2 separate regions of the Homo sapiens genome follow, and region 1 is linked to region 2. The links come from fine-mapping of genetic effects on gene expression. A gene starts in region 2. The other region holds a variant in brackets. All regions are shown on one strand. Distances are between the middles of the regions.

The links. PIP is the estimated chance that this variant, and not a neighbour inherited with it, causes the effect.
Region 1: its variant is fine-mapped to the expression of STIMATE-MUSTN1 in aorta (GTEx, PIP 0.91).

What each region holds. Positions count from the first base shown.
Region 1 is chr3:52,831,644-52,842,238 of GRCh38, reverse strand. STIMATE-MUSTN1 (STIMATE-MUSTN1 readthrough) reads left to right here. Exons shown (of 10, transcript NM_001198974.3): 8 at 1,629-1,739; 9 at 8,490-8,622; 10 at 8,809-9,118. The coding sequence ends at 8,915. It overlaps MUSTN1 (musculoskeletal, embryonic nuclear protein 1), which reads left to right and starts at 7,220. Exons shown (of 3, transcript NM_205853.4): 1 at 7,220-7,299; 2 at 8,490-8,622; 3 at 8,809-9,118. The coding sequence starts at 7,291. The coding sequence ends at 8,915. STIMATE (STIM activating enhancer) reads left to right here. Exons shown (of 8, transcript NM_198563.5): 8 at 1,629-5,506. The coding sequence ends at 1,745. RefSeq lists enhancers at 1,935-2,436, 4,620-4,789. The variant C/G (reference allele first, on the strand shown) is at 6,425.
Region 2 is chr3:52,893,042-52,903,636 of GRCh38, reverse strand. STIMATE-MUSTN1 (STIMATE-MUSTN1 readthrough) reads left to right here and starts at 6,089. Exons shown (of 10, transcript NM_001198974.3): 1 at 6,089-6,346. The coding sequence starts at 6,187. STIMATE (STIM activating enhancer) reads left to right here and starts at 6,089. Exons shown (of 8, transcript NM_198563.5): 1 at 6,089-6,346. The coding sequence starts at 6,187. SFMBT1 (Scm like with four mbt domains 1) reads left to right here. Exons shown (of 21, transcript NM_016329.4): 21 at 1-65. RefSeq lists a silencer at 5,827-6,536.

The DNA of each region.
Region 1 (10,595 bases), 61 kb after region 2:
CACTCACCCCACATCTGCGTGCAGGGCCAGCTCGTGGGAGGCATGGGAGGCCTAGGAAGTGTGCAGGTGGGAGCTGCAGAAAAGCTGAGACAAACGTCTTCCCCGGAGAGGCTGTCAGACACGTGGGTGAGGTGCAGGTGGACACATAAGTATTTCGTCATGACACCGTAATATGTTCTAAGATTGAGGCATAGGCAGAACCCAACGAGGGCCCTGGGACAGCCTGGAGGGAGTTTCAGAAGACGAATAGATAGTAGGACAGAGGGGAAGCCGTGTCTTCTCTAGGTGCTTGTCTCTAGAATCTGGCCAGCACCTGTCATATGAGAGCTTGGTGAACATTAGGTGAGTGGCAAACAGTGTTATGGGCAGAAGCAGCAGCTCATGAGCATTCACAGTCACATGGTTTGGTGTCTGGGCCATAGTGTGAAATGCACTGTGGCTTGTATTCTGGAGCATAGGACAGAAGGACAAGAAGTGAGGCACAGGCTGAGCTAGATCGGCAATGCCCTGTGATCCAGGCTGAGGCATTGGGATGTGCTCGTACAGGCGGTGAGGAGCAGTGGGAGTGTGGTGGTCGGGACCGAGACTAGAGGCAGGAAGCCCCGCAAGGGAACAGTGCAGGGAAGAGGAGGTGAGACTGCCTGCCCTGCCCTAGAATAGGAGTTCGTGTTTCCCTGCATAGGTGGGCTTTGGACCTCCTGATCCCAACCTAGGTGGTTCCAACCTTTCCCTGGTATTCAGAGGTCTAAGGAGCCAGGCAGGCGGGCAGCGGATGAGTGTGTTTGCCCCAGCTGCATGGCTGAGTCATTCCAGGGCCTTAGAACAGCAAAGTGCCGCTGTTTGTCTTCAGCAGTTACAGAGTTGGCTCAGAGCAGCCACGCTGAACTCCCCCTGCCCACAGATGCTTTCTCTTCCTTTTGAAAGGGGCTTTTCAGTCTGCCTCTGCAGTATTTAAGGCAGCTTCAACAACTGCATGTGTCATGGTTGAGCTTTTTTTAGCCAGGGTGACCTTAGGCTGCAGATCCCTGCTGAGTTTGTCCTGATGGAGGTCGGTTCCCCTGGAGGTGGACTGAGAAGTGGGGAGCATTAGCAGAGGAAGGGGGTCTGTCGACTCAGTGCTGGCTTCAGTAGCCCATGAGTGTCCTTGGAGTGAACATGGCCTGTGGAGGCTAGCACGTCTCATTGAGTACAGGGAGCTTCCCCTCACTCTCTTGTAAAGAAACATTAAGACTTGGCAAGGCATGGTGGCTCACGCCTGTAATCCCAGCACTTTGGGAGTCCGAAGCAGGTGGATTACTTGAGGTCAGCAGTTTGAGACAAGCCTGGCCAACATGGTGAAACCTCATGTCTACTAAAAGTAGCAAAAAAAAACAACGAACCAGGCATGGTGCCACGCACCTGTAATCAGCTACTCAGGAGACTGAGGCAGGAGAATCACTCGAACCCAGGAGGCAGAGGTTGCAGTGAGGCGAGATCGTGCCATTGCACTCTAGCCTGGGTGACAGGGTGAGACTCTGTCCAAAAAAAAAAAAAAAAAACATGAGACTTGAAGGGCCCAGGGTCCAGGGAGGGCAAATGAAGAAGGCCCTGCTGGGGGTGACTCAGGCCCTGCCTCTCTACTGCCTCAGATCCTGATCTCAGCGGATGATGAGATGGAGGAGTCCGACGTGGAGGAGGACCTCCGCAGACTGACCCCCCTCAAGCCTGTGAAGAAAAAGAAGCACCGCTTTGGGCTACCCGTATGACACATTCCCATGCTGGGGGTGACGGGAGGGCCCCGCCAGCCGCTGGTGTGCAGAGGTCATCCCGCAGCATCGTTCCTTACCCTCTCTCTGCCCTTCCTTTCTACCTCTGCTCCTCTTGCTGTCTCTGCCCGCTCTCGCCTGCCCCCAGACTACTGTGACTTAAAAAGAGGGAAGAGGAGCCAGCGCCCGAGGGGGCCACTGGCGGCTGGAGGTCCCCATTCAGTTGCACTACAAACACTGACCAAATATGCAAGGAAGGAGCTGTGTTTGTTTGTTGTCGTCCCAGACAGTGTTGTGAGGGACCTGAGGCCCTGCCCCGTGTCCGACCACCGAGTGGCAAGGTGGAAGGAAGCACAGGCACACAGACCGTGGGTGGGTCTCCTCACCGTGGCTGTGGGCAGTGCGAACACATAACACCCTCGGGCTAAAAGTGACTCGTTGACCAAGTTGGAACCGGAATGCTTTCTTACTCAAAATGGCTTTTGTAACTATTGATTTCTGAAGCTGGTTTTATGAGTTGTGACAGTGTTACCAGGTTGGGGGTATGTGTTTATTTCCTACAAAGTACTTACGGGACTAATGGGCAAAACAGAGATTTTTAAGTCTTCCGTATGCTGTTTGACTTTTATATTTTTAAGTTATATTTTCATACTATTGTATTTAAAAACTCTTTTTAGTCCCCAAAGAAATGGGTTTATTTGCCTTTCATGGGGTGTGGGCTGGCAGGAGGAAAAATCGGGAGTTTTTTATTTGGAATATTATTAGATGATGCCCTATGATAAGATGAGACAAATGATGGGGAGGGAAGGAGGATGGCCCTTCTCTAGAATCAGCAAACCCAATGGTTCTGTGAAGGTCAGACCCAAGCTTGGAGCAGCTGGTCTGGATGCAGATCCAGGAGCTGCAGAGTGTGGAACAGGAAAGGCTCTGCCCAGGGCCCATGAGCTCTAGCATTCCTGCTGGCAGATTAGAGATCTTAGTTAAATTTGACCAAGAAAGGAGCTTAGCTAAGAGGTCTTTGTTTCCAGAGGACCCAAGACTACCAGACTCCTGTGCAGTCTGCCTGTCTGCAGAGCCTCCAATCACGGTTTAAAGTGGTCTTGGCCTCCCAGCCCCCACTGCTGCAGCCTTCAGAGCCAGCCTCTGGACTCAGCGCCAGGAGCCTCCTCTCCTGCTGCCCTGGTACCTGTCATCCTAGTGTCACCTATTTGTTTTGCACAGCATTCTGGAGAACATGTGCCTCACAAAGTGATCCTGTTTTTCTCACCCTCCAAAGCTGAGGTGGCTAAGGGAGGCAGGGGTGAGAGAGCTCACTCTCTAAACCACAGGCAGGGCAAGGTGCTTCTAGGCCGTGTCCCCTCCCTGGGGAATGGTCACTACTCCTCAGCATGGCCACAGGCCCCTGTGGTTTTGGGAGTTTGCTGAGTGACTGTGGAATGGGCTGACCCCAGCCGTTTCCCTGCTGTGGAAACAGCAAGGTAGGGGCACTGCTTGGTGGTTTGTCAAGCTCAGAGGCAGCCACGGATGGTTAGGAACAGGAAGCCACACTGCTAAGGTGTGATGAGCTAGAAGGGAGACATCCTGGACTTCAAGTGAGACAAGTGCAGAGGAGGCCACTCCACTTAGGACCTTCCTTTTAGACCTGCATGAGCACGTGTTTCACTTAAGCACATTGGGTCCGAATTGGGCGCATGAACCCAGCTGTTAAACCAGGTACCCTGGGACTGCCCTCTGCCTCTCAGAGCCCTACCTGTCCTGGACTTGAAGGCGAGCATCAGGCAGGCCTTCTCAGCCCATCTTCCACCAGGAGTGCAGAGCCAGGGTGCTGAGAGGAGCAGGGACTGTAACTACAGTAGGAGGCAACTTTGCTGGTGTCATTCCTGCTCGGATTGACTTTGTGCTCCCTCCCATCCACAGCTATGGTAGCCAGTATTTCCCCAGCAGCTCTCTAGTGGGGAAGAGTGGCTAGAACCAGGCCATTCTCAGTCGAATTTAGGAAGACCAAGACTCATGTTCCTGACAGGACGGTCATTCCCTCATGGCATCACTGACTCAGTTCTAATTCCTCCCCTCCTGTTTCATTTTGGTTTGAACAACCTGTGCCTGCAGCTGTTTCTTCCACCTTCCTGGAGCTCACAATTGGAGCTTCATGTTCAGTCTTGAGCTCCTAATGTTTCCAGACAGGGCAGGGGATAGGAGAGCCATAATCTATGAAAGCTGTGAAACAAACCCTGGGTTATATAGATCTCAGATGGTCTCATCTGAAGGCTTTGCCCACTTCCCAGTGAGCAGAGGGTTTGGGGAACAAAGAGGTAGCTGAAGAGTGGTGGTTTTTCCCTGTATCCTGATTTTCAGAAAGGGCTTTAGTCTCTGAGCTGTGGCTAGTAGCTGGCTGGCTGACCAGGGGACGGGGGTCTAATAGGGTGTCTGACCATAGGACACCTCTCGTGTTTGGCCTTCCCTTTCTTGTGTGTTTGTGTGTGTGTGTGCACGTGCACGTGCACACACATGTACACACACAAATCTGTATCCCCAGGAGTGCCTCCTGCAGTCACTGGGGGCTCTTCCGTGGTGCACCATCCCATGAGAGCAGATCAGAGGGCTGTGGTCAGGACTTCCTCCCGAGCTGCCCTCCCTCCCTGGGATGAGTTTCCTCTCCACCTGCTCCAAGGTGCCTTACGAGGTGCAGCTCTTCACCTGGCCACATGGCATCCATCACCGTGTTGAGAAATGGTGGGACGTTGGCTGGATATTGTGTGCTATGAATCTGATTTGTCCAAATCTGGACCTCAGCCAAGCCACCTGTGGTGGAACCTTGCAAGTCAAGGTCATGAACAAATTTCTTGTAACTATTGGAAATAAACTAATGAGGTAGAACTGTCATATCCAAATGGAAGAGGTGGTTGGTACTGTTACTTCCTTTTGCTGTCAGAGGGTTGTTGACAATGGCAAGGGGGGATGTTAGTGAGATCCAGGTGGTGGTGGCTTCTTGGTCCACTCAGCTTGCACACATGCAAGAGGAGGGTCTGTGGCCCCTCAGCCGTGCTGGTGGCCTCCTTCCTCAAGCTTTAACTTGTGCCCTCCCTGGCAACAGGGAGTCATGGGTTAATGTCACCTGTCATGCCTCTTTCTTCAGGGAAAATATTAAAAGGCTCAAATCCAAGCTGTGACTTCCCTTAGACAGTGTAAGCCTGTAGGGTGCAGCCCCAAGTTTATGTCCAAAGGCTGCCTCAGAACCCTGGAGGGAGCAGCGCCCAGCTGGCAGCTCACTCTGCCCTTGCAGTTCACTGGCCTTTTCGCAGCCAGGCTAAGATAGGCAGTGCAAGGAGCTTCCCACTGGCCAGAGCAGCTGCCTTGTAGAATGTGGGGCTGGCTTTTAGAAGTTTCACACGCTTGCAGCTAAGAGTGCAGAGCTCTCTGTTTTACTTCGTGAAACATTAGCAGCTCTGAGGGGCTTGGCTTTTGGTAAGGGACTTATGGTCTGACTTGCCACAAGCACCTTGAGCTCCTGGGTTGGTTGGTGGTTGGTTGGTTGGGTTGTTTTAAATTTGATTTTTCTTTTCCTGAAGTTTGTTAGAAGTCAGACCTATGCAAGGAAAACCATGGCCCACTTCAGCAGCCATCCAGTGGGGGTGCTTAATCGGTGGTGGTAGGATTCATGGAAACGTTTTTTTGAAATGAAAGAGAAGATGATGTACTTACATTGTAAAATGGTTTACAATAAAGTTTGGCATCTTATTACAGTTTTTTTTAAAAAGAAACCATCACATTTGTGGTTGTGGTTGTGGGTTCTCTGGAGTTGAAACAGCTTGGCAGGGTCAAAAAAGATTCCCCTGTGAATTAGAAGGTTCTCCCCAGGGACCAGAGTGAGAAGGAACCTTACGAAGCCTCATGGCAGGAGTGGGAGCCAGCAACTGCCCAGTGAAAAGCCAAACATGCTCTTGCCATGTCCATCTCCACTTCTTCGCTAGTGAGAATTAAAGCAAGTCCGTCTCTGAGGAGGACATCGTGTTGGGGAGGTAGAGTATAAGCAGTGAGTAGCCCACATCCTTGTCCCTGAGGCTGCGGGGCTGGAAGGAGGTCCCTGGGCAGAGCCGCAGCATCAGGTGCCATCTGCAGGGGCACCCCTGGAACTAGTGGAAGGCCCCCACAAGGCCTGGCCTGCCCTCAGCTGCCTCTTGGCCCATGTGCCACATCCTGGGCATTCCTCATGTCAGCACTTGTCTCAGATCAAGCCTGGCAGTCCTCTCATTGGCCTCCTGGAGCCAGGGTGTCAGGAGGGGGATTGGGGTGGGGTTCAAAGTATGACAGCAATGGAGTGGCATTTGGGATAACCAAATGTCAGTGCCTGGTTGAGTTCCATCTGCCTGGAGCCTTCGAGGATAAAAATAATCTCCATCATAAACTGAAAAGGACTTAGATATGTGTGTTACTGGGAGGGCTGCGACCTATGCACACCTATTCCCCATACCCACCCCAGGCGTAGGCTCCTGGCCTGTGCCCTGGGGGATCTTCCCCTTGCAAGGAGGGGTGTGTTAGGAGCTTCTAGCAAAGGAGAGCTAAGTGACCTTCCGGGGAGCCCTTGGGCCTGTTCTTGTCTCTGCAGCTCAGTATCTGGAGTGGGCTTCACTCTCCCCCACCCTCTTTGAGCAACTGAAACTGTCCTGCAGGCCAGCCCC[C/G]CTGCGGTGGCCTCACCTACTCGGAGGTGAGTAGGCTCAGGCCTGAGCCTGAGCCTGTTTCACACCTCTGTCTCATCAGTGCTGTCACCATCGAGCATGGTTTCCTCCCTGGTCCTTTCCAGACCCCTTACTCCCCCCTCTCTGAACTTGCAGTTGGAATAGGATAGAGGACAAGGACATCAGCAAAAACATGAGCAACTCCCCAGGCTCCCTTTACCTCACTTTCTCCACCTGTGAACCTGTGGTAGCCCCTCTCTGAGTTTGCTGCAAGGGCCCAGTGAGCTTGCCATAATCAGACGCAGCAGACACGGGAAGCTCCTGCTCTGCCACCATGCAGGGATGGAAAATCTGTCCACTGGAATCCAGGGGAAGGGATGGAAGAGGAAGAAAAACAAGCTTGGAGCAGTCCAACCCAGCTAGGGCCCTCCATTCCCTCAGGGACACCCCACACCCACCCCACACACTGGGATGAACCCTTGCAGAGGAACAATTCAGATGGTCACACATTCCAGGACCCAAATCCGTAAACACAAAGCATGTCCGTCAGTGCCAGCACCTCCCCCCGGCGAATCAAGCAGCTGTCCCAGAGGGCAAAGGGTCTCTGCAGCCATCTGCTTTCATCAGGGCTGCAGCCCCCAGGCAGCAGTACTGGGAGCCCCTCTCATCTCCGAGAATAAACTCTGAAGCCAGCGACCCTGCGGACCTGAATCATCAGGGAGCCTGTCAGAGGAGGGGCAGTGACTCTGCGGGACAAGCAAGCAGGCTATATAAGTTTCAGAAGGCTGGGCTCCACTCAGATCTTTTCCAGCAGCTGCTGCCTGCCAGAGAGGCGCCTTCAGAGACCCAGCGCTTACACAATACCCACCATGTCCCAGGTAGGAGGACCCAGCAAGGGCTGTGTTGATGCCAGAGGGAGTGGAGGTGGAGTCCTGGACACTTTCGGCTCTGGCAGCTGTGTCTTGATCTGAGCCCCAAGCATGAACTGGAGGCTCTGCAGCCCTTGGGAGATGGGGGCTCAGGGAGGACCCCCTGAAGAACCCCTCTTCTATGTGGCTTTGGTGGTATTCCACGGTTTGTTAGGAGGAGTGGAGAGAAATGTTGGGGGTGGGGGGGGCCTAGATAGATCTTTGCATGTGCCTGTGTGTGTGTGTGTGTGTGTGCGCATCTGTGTGTGTGCTGCCGATATAGCTCAGTGTGTAGAGCTTTGTGCATTTGTAGCTATGGGCCCGGCAGCCATGCACTCTGTGTGTGGCCACACACATAGGTCTGTCTGTCTCTGTGTATGGTATATGCATGAAGCTGTATGTGTGTGCACATGAGGCTGGAGGGACACAGCTGGATGCATCGCTGTACAGGGGTATAGTGTGTTGCTCTGAGGAGCCTGGCCCAGGCTGAGCGAGGAAATACCTGCACCTGCACCCAAGCACAGGCAGGTCTCAGACTCACAGGCGCCTGGGGTTGAGGGGTAGGGTAAACACCGAGCCTGGGTGTCCCCCACCCTGGAGGGACAGACCAGCCTGCCAAGAGAGAGGACTGTCCTTGCTGCCTGCTCTGTGGGTGGGTGGCCATTTTGGACTGTAATTCTGTGGGCATCTGGCCCTTCTACCCCATTTCCAGCCCCAAAGACACAAAGTAAATAGTGGCGCTTTTCTGGAAGGGGGCAATCCTTGAGGAACCGCTTGCCACCCAGTGAACAGGTTTTGGAACTAACCAAATTCCCTAGTATTGCCCAACCTCAGAGCTAGTCCCCTTCGCTGTTCCCCACTGTGCCCAGTCCTGAGCTTGACCAGGTAGCCAGACACGCCAGTGTGAGGCTGCAGCAGCCACTGCTCCCAAGAGCTCCCAGGCTATAGGGGAAAGGCACATGGGCAAGTCAGACCAAGACAGCTGGGAGACCTGCAGCAGGTGGAGTATAGTTGGGAAGGCTTTCTCTGGAAGAGGAGTAGAGCCTTGAATAGGCTTGGGTTTAATGAGCAGAGAAGAGGGGTCTTGGCCAAGGCACAGAGGTAGGTGTGCCTTTCTACCGAGGCTTCAGGTAGTAAGATGAGGCTCTTGGATCTCCAAGGCTGGTGCTCAGGAAGCCCCTATCAAGAAGAAGCGCCCCCCTGTGAAGGACGAGGACCTGAAGGGGGCCCGAGGAAACCTGACCAAGAACCAGGAAATCAAGTCCAAGACCTACCAGGTCATGCGAGAGTGTGGTGAGTGTCCTCATGCCATCTGGGGCTGGGGATGGGGGTGCAGGTGTGTGTCAGTGGTGGGGGGAGGTGGTCAAGGATCCTTTTCTGAGAATCCAGTATTCCTGGGTTCAAGAAAGGTGCTCCCATCGTAAGGGATCTTCCCTCCCAGGAAGCTAGGCTGGCCCCTGACTTTACCTCCTCCCACAGAGCAAGCTGGCTCGGCCGCCCCGTCGGTGTTCAGCCGCACCCGCACAGGTACCGAGACTGTCTTTGAGAAGCCCAAAGCCGGACCCACCAAGAGTGTCTTCGGCTGAGAAGTGTGCGCCACTCCCCTTGCTGCCCGAATGCTCGGAAACAGGAGCCTTTCCCAGGAACTCTTTTTTATGCCAGAACGCTTCCTCTCCCCTGCTGTCTCTGGGGCTGCCACCCTCCCCCACAGTCCAGGCCCTTCAGCCAAGGGCTCTGCACCAGCACCTTGGAAGCACCAATAAAGAGGATGCCCACGTGGCCCCAGCAATCAGAAGGTGTTGGTTGGTCCCTGGCTATGGCCACTATTGAGAGGGAGGACAGGGTGGGAACATGGAACATGTCCGTTTAAGAGGATCCCAGGGGATAGCACAGGTGCTATTATGGGCACTGCCACATGCTGCCTTGGACATGGAGACTCAGTGCTGACCTGTGACTTCAGACTTTTCTGAGCCTCAGTTTCCCCTTTTATACTACAGGGGAGTTGAGCTGGAGTCTATTCCATAAAGCAGGCCATGATGACACTGCTCAGAGTGAAGTGGGTGGGGTCTCAGGGACCACCTCTCCTCCTGCCTTCCACAGAAGCTGCTGAGAAGCCTCTGAGGACCTGCAGGCTCTGCAGCACCTAGGGACCTCAAAAACCCCTCTCCCTGCACTGCACTAGGGACCTCAAAACCCCTCTCCCTGCACTGCACTAGGGACCTCAAAACCCCTCTCCCTGCACTGCACTAGGGACCTCAAAACCCCTCTCCCTCCCTACACTTTTGTTCACACTGCCTCCTCCCGGCTTTTGTCCCCTCCAAGTCAGAGCCAGATTGAGATTCCTCTCTGGCAGTCAGTTTCCTGAGCTACCGTCTCTTCCAAACAGCAGGGGTAAGACTCCCACATTCTGCTCCAACCATGCTGTCTGGGGCATGGAACACCAGATTCTCAGCCTGCATGACCCTTCTCTCTCCAGTCCTCTGTCCCCTGTGTGCCTGGAAGTGCCAGGTTCAAAAGACCCATAGAGGCCTGTCCCGTTGTGATGGCAAGACCATGACCATGGACAGGCTGACAGTGGCTCTTTTCGGAGCTGGACTGGCAGAGCCTGGGCTTGTGGTGCCTGGCTCGGGGCTGATGCCTGCTGGGGATGCCTTCCTGTCCCAGGAGGTTCTGGCTGCCCAGAACGTTTCCCACAGTCCCGGCCAGCCTGGCCACCTTATATAGCCCTGAGTCCGGGCTGGGCCTGTGCTCTCTGCCCCAAGGGAGCAGCCCTGCTGTGAGGAAGGGCCCAGTCCTACTTGCTGGACTCCATGGGGAGACTCTTCCCCCAGACACTGAAAGGAGCGTGTTCCCCTGTGTAATCCCAATCGTATCCAGAGCCAAAAGGGTGAGCAGTGGAGACGTGCGCAGAGATGAGGCTTCTGGCCAGTCATGCTAAGGAAGGGGAACGTCTTCCTTGCAGCTGTAGAAATAGCTCCAGTCTATGGCACCTTTGCCCCAGGCCTGCCGCCACCTCTAATGGAGACAGGACTGGTGGAGAAACCCTCCCCAGCCTCTGGAAGCCACTGGCTGCCCCAAGGCCCCCGATAGGTTCCCAAGGCAGCTGGCCCCCTCAGGGCTGGTGTCACGGAGCCGCCGTCCTTCCCTGATCCAGGACTTGGCATCTGGCCACACTTTTATGACTCATCTTTACCCATCTGTGGCCACAGACTCAGGAGCTGGCTTCCCCAGAGCCACCAGGGAACACGAGCCCCAGCGGTGCCCAG
Region 2 (10,595 bases):
TTTTAATCCTGCAAACTGGGTGAATTCTAAACAGCTCTACAAATATAAGGAAATATTACAGCAAATTTTAACTGATTGTGATTTTTTTTTCCCATTCCCCACCACCCCAACCTATTTTTGTGGACATTGATGAATAATCTGGAGCCTCTCTTCATTGGGTAATTCATAAACCAACTTAACTCAAGCCCTGCAACTAAATCATACATTAAATCATTAACTCTTCACTTAGGTTCCTACCAGATCTATCTGGGAAGAAGCTTCATTTAAGTAAAAATTAGTATGTTTGAAACTTAGAGATCCAGTTTTTAAAAATTTAAATCTGTGTCTGTGGAAGACAAGGATATATAGGGAATGCTAGGGAATAATTAGCATTAAACATTAAGCTTTTGGTGGGTAGTGGTGGTAATCTTGCTTAATGAAATTTCCTGAGAGTTCAGTCAAGGTACTAAGGAAAAGAGGGCCCCTTGAGGAAGAATAATGGAACAGAATTTCTGGAATTAATGTTTAGGGCCTCGTGTTATTATCTTATTTAGGAAAGTGAAATATATTTCCTATAAGAGGGAATTTACCAAACACAAGAACAATGAATGCTTTATTTTGTCTCTCTTTTGACTTCTCCAGAAACCACAGAATTAAGAATCATCTCCCTTCACAGGTGAGGGGATGAAGGCGCTGAAGGGCAAAACATACAGCCCTACGTAGTCTCTGATCTAGGTAGAGTCAGAGCCCAACAGGCTTGTTTATACCATGATTATTCAGGCTCAGCCCGTTCCTAGAGAAAGGCTGACTCTAAATGGTCAAGTAAGTTGAGTTTCCCTTAATATTTCTTGCATTCTCCTATTAAGGCATAGTTTATTAGGCAATTGCATAAAGAATTATATCCCCCAGCGCCGACTCCCGTATATTATGTAAGCAAGGATAATTGGGAATTTAGCACAGGGCACTTTTTTAACTTAAAGTTTGGACTTAATTTACCTCACAAAGCTGCTGGGACTGGGCTAGATAACAATGATGTTCTGGTTACTGTGATGCTGAAACAGATTTCAAGCCAGATAATAGCTCACCATGTTGGGGTAAAATGTTGGTATGTTGCACACAGGTGCAAGAACTTTGTTTTTTAGAGAGACCAACTTCTTAAATGTGTAACAGTCACATTGTGAAGGGACTGCATTTGTCTGGATTTCACCTGCAGCTGGGCCCACAGCCTGCCTGAGGTCAGAAAATTTTTCATGACCCATTTTTTACCCTGAATTGACAAGTTTAGAAAACAGGTTAATGGACTACTTCATCCTCCTGGACCTTGAAAAGCTGGCTGACCAATATTAGACTACTACTGCTCAATTAGTGTGCTAGGGAAACCTTTTTGCTGCACATGCAGATTTTTCTGTGACATTTTGACTAGATTTTGAGGGCTTCTGGGGACTATGCTGTTTTCCTTTGTACACCATCTTCATCCTTCTCATTTGAAGCAGAGTTGAAGTGGCTAATGCAGGGAATGCATTTATGGAAGCTTGCACGCTATCTGCCTTTGTTCAGCAATGCAGGTGGCTCCTAGCATTTATCTATGTTATAGATATGTGAGGTCAGGGAAGGGTACTTACTAACCTCTGGAAAAGATGAGCTTCTTGATAAATATTTATTGACTTATGGTAGAAGCAAACATAGAAAACTAGTTCAGAACTTAGCCTTAATATGCCTTTTCTCCTGGAAGTAAAATATTCTCACTGTGAGAGAGAAGACATTGGACCTTAGCTTCCAGAGGACCTGGATACACTTTACTTGCTCTCTAGTACCAATTCAGTCACGAATGTGGTACCTGAATACAATTTAAAAGCTTTAGGAGGCCTTAGGTAGGGTGGGACTCAGAATCATTTCCCTCTCTCAAGCCAAAAAGTGTTTCTGAGGGACACATAGAATATCAGGCAATCTAGATGGGAACATTTGGGAAAACTATCACAGGCAATTATATTTACTTGGCACCTATATCACCAAAGATTGTTCTATTTGAGACACCATTTACTGGTTTAATTGATCAACAGTGGAACACACCCTGGATTTGAACTCTGATCCTGTATATTGAGGATGTGCCGTGTGTGCACACACCAGTTCAGAAGTGTTCTGTGTTATCAGTAGGAAATCTGTTGGTCTTATGAAGTTAAATGAGTAGAAGGCATCACTACAAAAAATGAAGTACAAATCTTGGTGGGGACCAGATGCCCCCTTTGCAAGCTTGGATTTCCTTGCTCCTGGGTCCACTGTAAGCAACCATATGTTTGTCATGGTGCTGACTCAGAAATCGTAGGACAGAGAGCCTCCTGCAAAACCAAAAAGAAATGTTACTTTCCTGCGATTATAATTCTTCCTTGACTTTGTTCACTTTAGATGTTTTACTAGTGAGTTTTGATGACTCCCACCCCTTATGTGAGAATGTGCATACTTTGGAAACTTGAATTTATCCAAACAAGCTACCTATGACTTAGAGTTTGGGCATAAGTTTTAAATTCAATGCTCAGTCGAACTGGATCTGGTTCCAGGCCCACTCCAAGGGTGGTTTCAGGGGTGTTTTTTCAGTACTTGTCCCAGACCACACAGGTAGCCTTGTTTCTGAGGGCAGCTTTATGGGGAGGTGTAGAAGGTGGTGGGCAGCAAATGCACTGCAGAGTCATTTTCTTGGGTATGGTGTTTAAGAAGCCTGAGATTTTCACAAGAACCAGCAAAACCAGGAGTGGAGAGTTGGGGAGATAGAGAAGTAGGCCTAAAACTCCCTCTTCTTGAGTCTTTTTTGACTTAATACACCATTGGGTCTGTCCTGGTGCTATGGCCTATCACAAAGGACTGTTTTAAGAGAGAAGCAAGCCACAGCCTTGCCAGATAAGTCTCCAACACCAGCAGAAAAGCACGGACCCTGATCTGTGGGAGGCAAGGGTCTCCCATTATTTCTGGAGGCAAATGGTGCCTTCTAGTGAAATGGTGCCACCATTTGCTGATGGGGGTGCCTGTTCTCAGGATGTGTGGAAACTCAGGCCTGAGGGTTTCTACATGGTTTATTCAATCTAACTGCATACCTAGCTTGGCAGAATGGAGGTGGACAAAAGTGCTGAAAGGATGAGGGTAGGCTTTTAGGGCAAATCAAGTCACAAAGCAGATGATTGAGGGAGGTTACAAAGCTTAGGCAGAGTTAAAGTTGGGCAGTCCATTAGCTCCTTTTGCAAGAATCTCTGGAGACGGTAGTTTGAATGTTTCCCTTGAGATTTCAAGTGCTCATTTCTTTTCCCCTCCCTTCCTTTCTTCCTTTTTTTTTTTTTTTTTTTTTTCATTGAATATTCTCTGAAGACAATCAGAGGCCTGCCAGGGAGGGACTCCTGGCTGGTTCCAGCACTGTCCTTAGGCCTCTTTTTAATACTAACTTGTTGGAACTGATGCACTTTGTTTAATGTATTTTACCTTTTTTTTTTAAAGCTGCTCATTTAGAACAAAATCAAATGCTTATTGCATTGTATCCTTCCTGCTTGCTGTTTTTCCTCTTAATTTCAAAAGTTATGCATTAAAGATAAAAGTACACTTAAGAAGTATGCACAAGAATACCTATTAAAATAACTACCATCAAGTTTGATGGTATAACTTCAAAGGATTAAAAAAAACTATTTTGGATTAATATTTTGCGTGTTTTTTTTGTAAATATGATTGTATATAAACTGGTGGTACGTTATGACAGTTTTAAGTGGTTGTGAGAAAACTAAAGAGAACAGGTCTTAAGCTATGTTTAACCTTAACTTTGTGCTGATTTGACAACAAGGAAGGCATTTTGGCCAGAGTAAATTTTTTAAAACTCTTTCCAGCGGGACCTCAGAGAATCATTTCCAAATAGATGAGAAGTTCCTTCCTACTTTAATAAAACTCCGGAATTCTTCCCCCTCTCTTGCTGTCTCATCCTTTACCTTCTGGATTTAGGTGCTTTTTAATTCCAGTTCAGGAAAGATAGGAAGAGTAGAATTTCCCCACAGCAACCTTGCTCCTGACATTGGGGATTCCGCCCCTGATCTCTGAAGACTGCTTCTTGTTTGTTCCTCTGTGAGCCTTAAGGATTCCTCCACAGCTGGATGTGCAGAACAATTCTTTGTCAAAAACATCACTTTTCAGCTCTATGTCCAATTTTCCTTGAGCTGTCTGTGTCTTCAAGCAATCAATAGTCTCCTTATGCCCAACCACAATCTATTCTGCTTTAAGACGTAGCCTCTTGTTTGGTTCTCTCTAAACATGTACTGTTAACTGTTGAGCATCCTCATAAGATCCCTCTTAGACTAAAAGACAGTCATGCAATTTTAATTTTCCCTTATCCATTTATTTTTTTAATCTGATTTTCTGTATTTGCCCACGGCCAGTACTTGTGGAGAGTTTAAAATTTTATAAATTAAAATTCCATTTAAATTAAGCATTTTGTCGCATGTTCTCTGTACCAGGCACCATACTGAATTTGAATTGAAGGGTAAATAAAAATAATTCCTGCCCTCAGGAGGCTCACACTTAGCTGTGGGAGAGAGACATGTGTACAGCTGTCAAATTTAGCAGTCTGAAAAGTTTTGGTGGAACAGTACACACTAGGTAATGTGGGAGCAAGAGGGAGAGGGAGGTCAGAAAGGCTTTGACACATGAGGAGCAGTTCATGGAGCAGGGAAAAGGGAATGGCATCCATGCAGCTAGAATGCTACATAAAGGCACAGAGGTGTGAAAATGTAAGAGAAGGCTGGAGAATTGCATTTTTATTCTCTAATCAGGTTAATATTCCTGTTCACCAAGAAAGCTTTTAGCTAGCATATAACCCTCTTAGGTAATTGGAATTTGGGGGGCTATTTAATAGGAAACTTTTTCCTAGAGATGATATTTACCGTTGAAAACACGTAGCTCAGTATCAACTGGACTTACACCATATGTTCACTGACATTCTGCAGCAGGAAGGTCAGCGGCTCTAGAGCACCAACAAGAAGGTATCCAGAGAGAGCCCAGATTGGGCTGGGAGAATGGGTGAGTGTCAACTGGACTTACACCATGTGTTCACTGACATTCTGCAGCAGGAAGGTCAGCGGCTCTAGAGCACCAACAAGAAGGTATCCAGAGAGAGCCCAGATTGGGCTGGGAGAATGGGTGAGTGTCAACTGGACTTACACCATGTGTTCACTGACATTCTGCAGCAGGAAGGTCAGCGGCTCTAGAGCACCAACAAGAAGGTATCCAGAGAGAGCCCAGATTGGGCTGGGAGAATGGGTGAGAGAATGGGGACTCAGGGTCTTGTTAAAGGCAGAGCACAGGTTCTGAGAAGTTGGAAAGGGTTAGATGGGAGTGTGTGTGTGCAGGGGGATGTTGGAGCCTGGAAAATACCAACCATTTGTCTTTTACACTCTAAAGGTAGTTGTGCTCCCCAAGTGAATAAGGTGGGACATGTGCACGTCAGGTTTTCAGTGTGAAACCTGGTATATTTCCAAATGAAAGTGATTGGATTCAGGTGACCATTTAAATTATGTCTATGAAAAAAGAAAATAGACTTGGGGCCTTGATAAGCCTTTAGCTAGGGAAGTAGGAAAAAGACTCAAATGTCTGGGTTGGAGGGAAGACTCCTGTACTCAGTCTCAGATTGTTTTCCTTATTCACTTGCTTCAGAATAATCCAGGCTGCAAACTATTGGGACCCACCCCAGAACTACTGAATCACGATCTCTGAGGGTGGAATTCAGGAATGATGATAATTTCTCCAGGATATAGGGATTTTCCTTAGAGGGAAAAATAATTTGACCACAGGCCGTCCCAGCTCCTACCTCCGGACCTGGAGCTCGTGATTCCCAGGCTCTCATTCCGGTCTGCGGTGGCCGGCTCACCTGGCCTGTCTACCTGCGGGCGTGGCGGGGTTGGAGAGGGGAGCGGGACCCGCGACCCCGCCCCGTGGCCCGGCCGGAGCCCCGCCCCTCGGGGGCGGGTGGGGAGAGCTGCCGCGGCCGAGGCCCGCCCCAACCTTGGCTGCGCCAATCAGGCACTGCGATCTCAGACGTCGGGTTACGCGCGGCGCGGAGTCGGCGGCCGGGCGGAGGTACCGGCTCAGGCTTGGGATCCCGGCTGCGGGTTTGGCGGCGCTGCGCCGGCAGGCAGCGAGGCCGGGCGGGCCCTGGGCCCTCGCGCCCCTCCCGCGAGGCCTGTCATGCAGGGCCCCGCCGGGAACGCGAGCCGGGGACTGCCAGGCGGGCCGCCCTCCACAGTCGCGTCCGGGGCGGGCCGCTGCGAGAGCGGCGCGCTCATGCACAGCTTCGGCATCTTCCTGCAGGGGCTGCTCGGCGTCGTGGCCTTCAGCACGTTAATGCGTGAGTCTGGGACCCCCCGACCCTCCGGAGGCCCTGCGCGGCAGCCGCGGCCCGGCCCCCCTGGGGGCCCCTCCTGCGCGGAGAGTTCAGGCCTTGGGACCCGAATTGCTCCTCCCCCGCAAACCCAGGCTGGGTATTCCTGCACTAGGGGTAGCCCGAGCCCCTCACCTACTCGCTGTGGCCTCCAGACAGGAGTGACCCTTCCCCTTTCCACCTTAAACGTCTGTCTTTTGAGACGCCAGTCTAAAACTCGCCTACCTCCCACCTTACCATCTCGAATTGTTACCCCACTTCCCAGCCTGGAATCATGACCCCCAAGGGTGACATCCCCTTGTCCGCCCCTTCTCAGGGGCTCTTCGTGCTTAGAACCCACATCCCTCAATCCCCAGTGCGATGCTGAGCTCTTTTCTGCCCCTTCACTCTTCAAGGATCTGCCTTCTCCGTTCACATTTAAATCCTGCTACTTTGCATCCCTCTCAACACCTGGAGTGTTAGGGCCATGCCTTCCGTTTCCCAGTACCCGCCTCCCTCTCCGTGGCCCTTCTTCCTCAGCTTTAGTTTCCCTTTTGTCAGGGTAGGACCCACCCAGTCTGCCTTCTTCCCCAGATCCCCTTCCTCTCGTTTCTTCCGGAACAGGCCCACCTGTTCCATCTCTGTCCCAAGCTTTCCTAATAAGCCGCATCTATAGCTTCCCCTGGCTGTTCCCTTTCCACTTTTATTCTTTATATTTTAAGTTTCCTTTTCCATTAAACTTGGGCACCTTAGTGGCTGAATAGAGAAGGAAGCCCCCACCCTGTTCTCATGTGTGCTGATGGGGGGTGGGGGGGGGCTTCTGTTTTTCATCGTGTGCATCCTTCCCTTATTAAAGTAACAAGAAGTTTTGCTCGACATGTAAGCCTAGGAGTGCCCTTGTGACTGCGTTTTAGGGGGAAGGAAAGGTTATAACTATCTGTGCAGAGTCATTAATTCCAAAAATGACTTGTTCTCAAAACTTCCCCACTGTGCTTGTGTGGACAGAGTGGAGAGTTCCTGCAGAAAGTATGCTTTGGGGTACTCAGGAGGGATCTTGCAGCTGTGTGCCTTTGTCTTGTGGGGTCCAGTTGCTGGAGTGGCCACCTTGCTTGTTTATAACTTGGGGTTTCTTTGAGTGAATTCTCTCAGGCTTTAAGTAACCCTGAAGAGGCTCTGATCATGGATACCGCGTTCTTCTGGTGGCCTGTCCTTGATAAGTCTTATAAGTGCCCAACTGTCTATGTTTGCCACTTTTTCTTTCCTTTTTAGTCCCAACTTGCCTTGCTTTTTCTCTGCTAAACAAATACCCACTTGTTCCCACAGTAATAATTTGTGACAACTTAGCCAAAATCCGCTGCTGACTTGGGCGCATGTACTGTACGTGTGTGTTTTCAAGACATGGTGAGTGGATCTTCATACCCCTCCTACTTCTCTGTCCTCCAGACAGCCTTCCTTTCTCTCTGAAGGAAGTGTAGGTTAAATTTTTCTTTTGCTCCCTAACCTGAGGTTTCTTAGCCTAGCTCTGGCTGTTTCCATAGGTTTGATTGATGCTGATGGCCCGGCTTGTCCCCTAGGGTTTGACACTTGTGATTCAGAGAAGGAAATGTGATGATGACAGGGCAGAGTTGCTCACAGCTGAGAAGTGTATCGGGTTGAATGTGTTCTGAGTGGAGTCTTCAGGGACATATTCACTTCTTTACTTAATCTTCAGCGTGAGCACATGTGCAAATCCCACTGTGGTTGGTACTTTCTGTGTGCAGAGATTGAACTAGAAAGCAGTCTCTTGTTCACTGTGAGGCTTGACGTGGACGGAGCTTGTGGAAATGGCTGGTGGGTCCTGGGGTGATGTGGGTAGGAGTGATGGGGAGAAGAGCTGGAAAGGCTAGAGCTATGTCTGCCCTGACACAGAAATGGAGGTGAGAGCAAGAGCCTCCTCCCCCTACCTAGAAGCAGACAGAGCAGGCCAGGGCAATGGTACTCTGGGAGCTGGACAAGAAGAAGCCCACTGACTGGGATGCAGTCAGGGTGGGGCCCTTCTTATCTCTCAGATTTCTTGGTCCTGTTGAAATAGAACTGCGAGGCTTTTCCTTCTTGAACTACTGGGAAGAGGAAGAAATCTCTAAGGTGGAAGAGGAACGAGATCAAGGTAGCCTTAAGGAAGTACATCTGCGAGCCATTTGGCTTTGTCCTGGGCTATTAGTCCTCCGTCCTTCTCAGTCTGGCGGAGCTGCCAGGAGGGGCATCTGTTGAAGGCCAGGCTCCCCTGACGAGGGTCCCCCTCGCAGCCCTGAGGGAGGGAAGTCTTAGTGTGTGTTAAGGTGAGGCCACTCCATCCTTCCTCAGTTCTGTTATCTTCAAACATTTTAAATACCAACCAGTCTGTTCTGAGCAGTTTAAACAGCCGTTGTCCTTTGAGGGGCTGTTTTTGAGATCACAGTCTTTTCCCTTCTGAGTACCCGTGGCCCTCGAGGCAATGGGCTCACTGCCTGTCTTCTGGAACGCTTCCCCAGTCCTGATGGCCAACACTATTGTTTCCTGTTGGACCAGCTCTGACTGTAGAATGAACCCATTTCTCTGCAGACAAGCTGTGAGGTAGTTTTCCTTACTTCACCTCCCTGATTTCAGTGACCCCTCAGACCACTGTCTTTATGTTCCTTTTTCTATCCAGAAAAATCACTTTTTTCTCCACTTACACGTTGCCTTGTTTTTGTTTGTTTGTTTCTTTGTTTTTAATCTGGAGAGGTTTGTCCTGAAGGAAGATTACTTATATATATTAATGTCTCTGGGGAGGATTCTGGTTCTGCAAGAATTTCTCATTCTGGTGCTTTGATAGACTTCTTGCCTTACTATGTAGGGTTTATAGACCCTCTTGGTCCAGGCAGTTGAGAATGTATATGCCAGGTCATACATGGTAGCCCATTATTCAAGCTGCATAAACATGCAGACTGTTACAGGCACCACCCACACACATGTCCCAGTGTCAGCACTGCCTTGTTGAGTTGGCGGGCTTCCTAGAGGCTCCAGCTAAGGTACCCTGTGTACGCAAGGAAAGATGAACATACTCAGAGACAAGCTTATGAAGATACTTTCCACTTAGAGTTTTCTGAAGTGTCTGCTAGGTATCTGCATAGAAAGAAACGCTTTAAACGAGGGGGCTTTGCCAAGCAATTCCTCGTTTTGGTGGTTTTAAGCAATTCCTCGTTTTGGTGGTTTTGTCTATAGTCTGTGACTTGACAAAGTTGCTCAGCTAGGGTCTCAGCAGAACAGAGCTAAGCAGTCCTAGAGCTCAGCAAACTGTTCCAGTGCAGGGTAGCCAACCAGCTGTCAGCCAAAGGTCGTGTTGGCCAGTGTGTGTGTTGGCATTTGGGGGTGTTTGCTCTCAGGACATGTGAATGCAAAGCAAACTCAAGCCTCCCTCACCGTGCACAGTCAGGGTTCTGGGCTGAAGTGTAGACAGAATTGGTTTTTAATAAAACAAGCATTTTGAGAGCTTGGATAAATCTGCCTGCCTATTTTTGTTATAGACATGGGGCCTAGCCAGCTGGGAGAAATGTGTCCATGTTTTACAAAAACACTGCTAACATTGAGAAGTGATAACTTTTTTCCTGCAATCCAAAGTAAAAATCACAAACCAGTCCACTCAGCTTTGATATCTTAAATGAGAGTTTCTGGGGTTTTCTCCGTGGTAAACCGGCCTCCCTGTGTGCTCTGTGTGAACAGGCTTGTGTTGGCACAACCTTCCCTACGATCACCTCTCCCCACCCCATCCTGGTTTTTATCTCTAAAAATGTCAAACGTAGAAAACATGAAAAATAATACACTGAACATCTGTCTGCCCTCTACCTAGATTTAGCAGTTGTTCACATTTTGTCACATTTGCTTTACCTCTTTATGCTTTTTTTTTTTTGGCTGAGCCATTTGAAGGTAAATTGTGACCAGCATCACACTTTACTGCTAAATACTTCAGCTAAGTCTCCCCAAAATAAGGACAATCTCCCACATAACCACAATTTCATCATCATACTTAAGAGAATTAATAATAACTCCATGATATCATCTCATATCCAGTCCATAGTCACATTTCCCCAAATGTCACAAGTCTTTTATAGCTGGAGTTTTTAAAAGCTAAGATCCAATCAAGGTCCACACGTTGTGTCTGGTTACGTTTTCAGTCACTTTCGTTTCTAGAAGAACCTCCTCCTACACATACATGCACACTTTTTTTTTTTTTTCAATG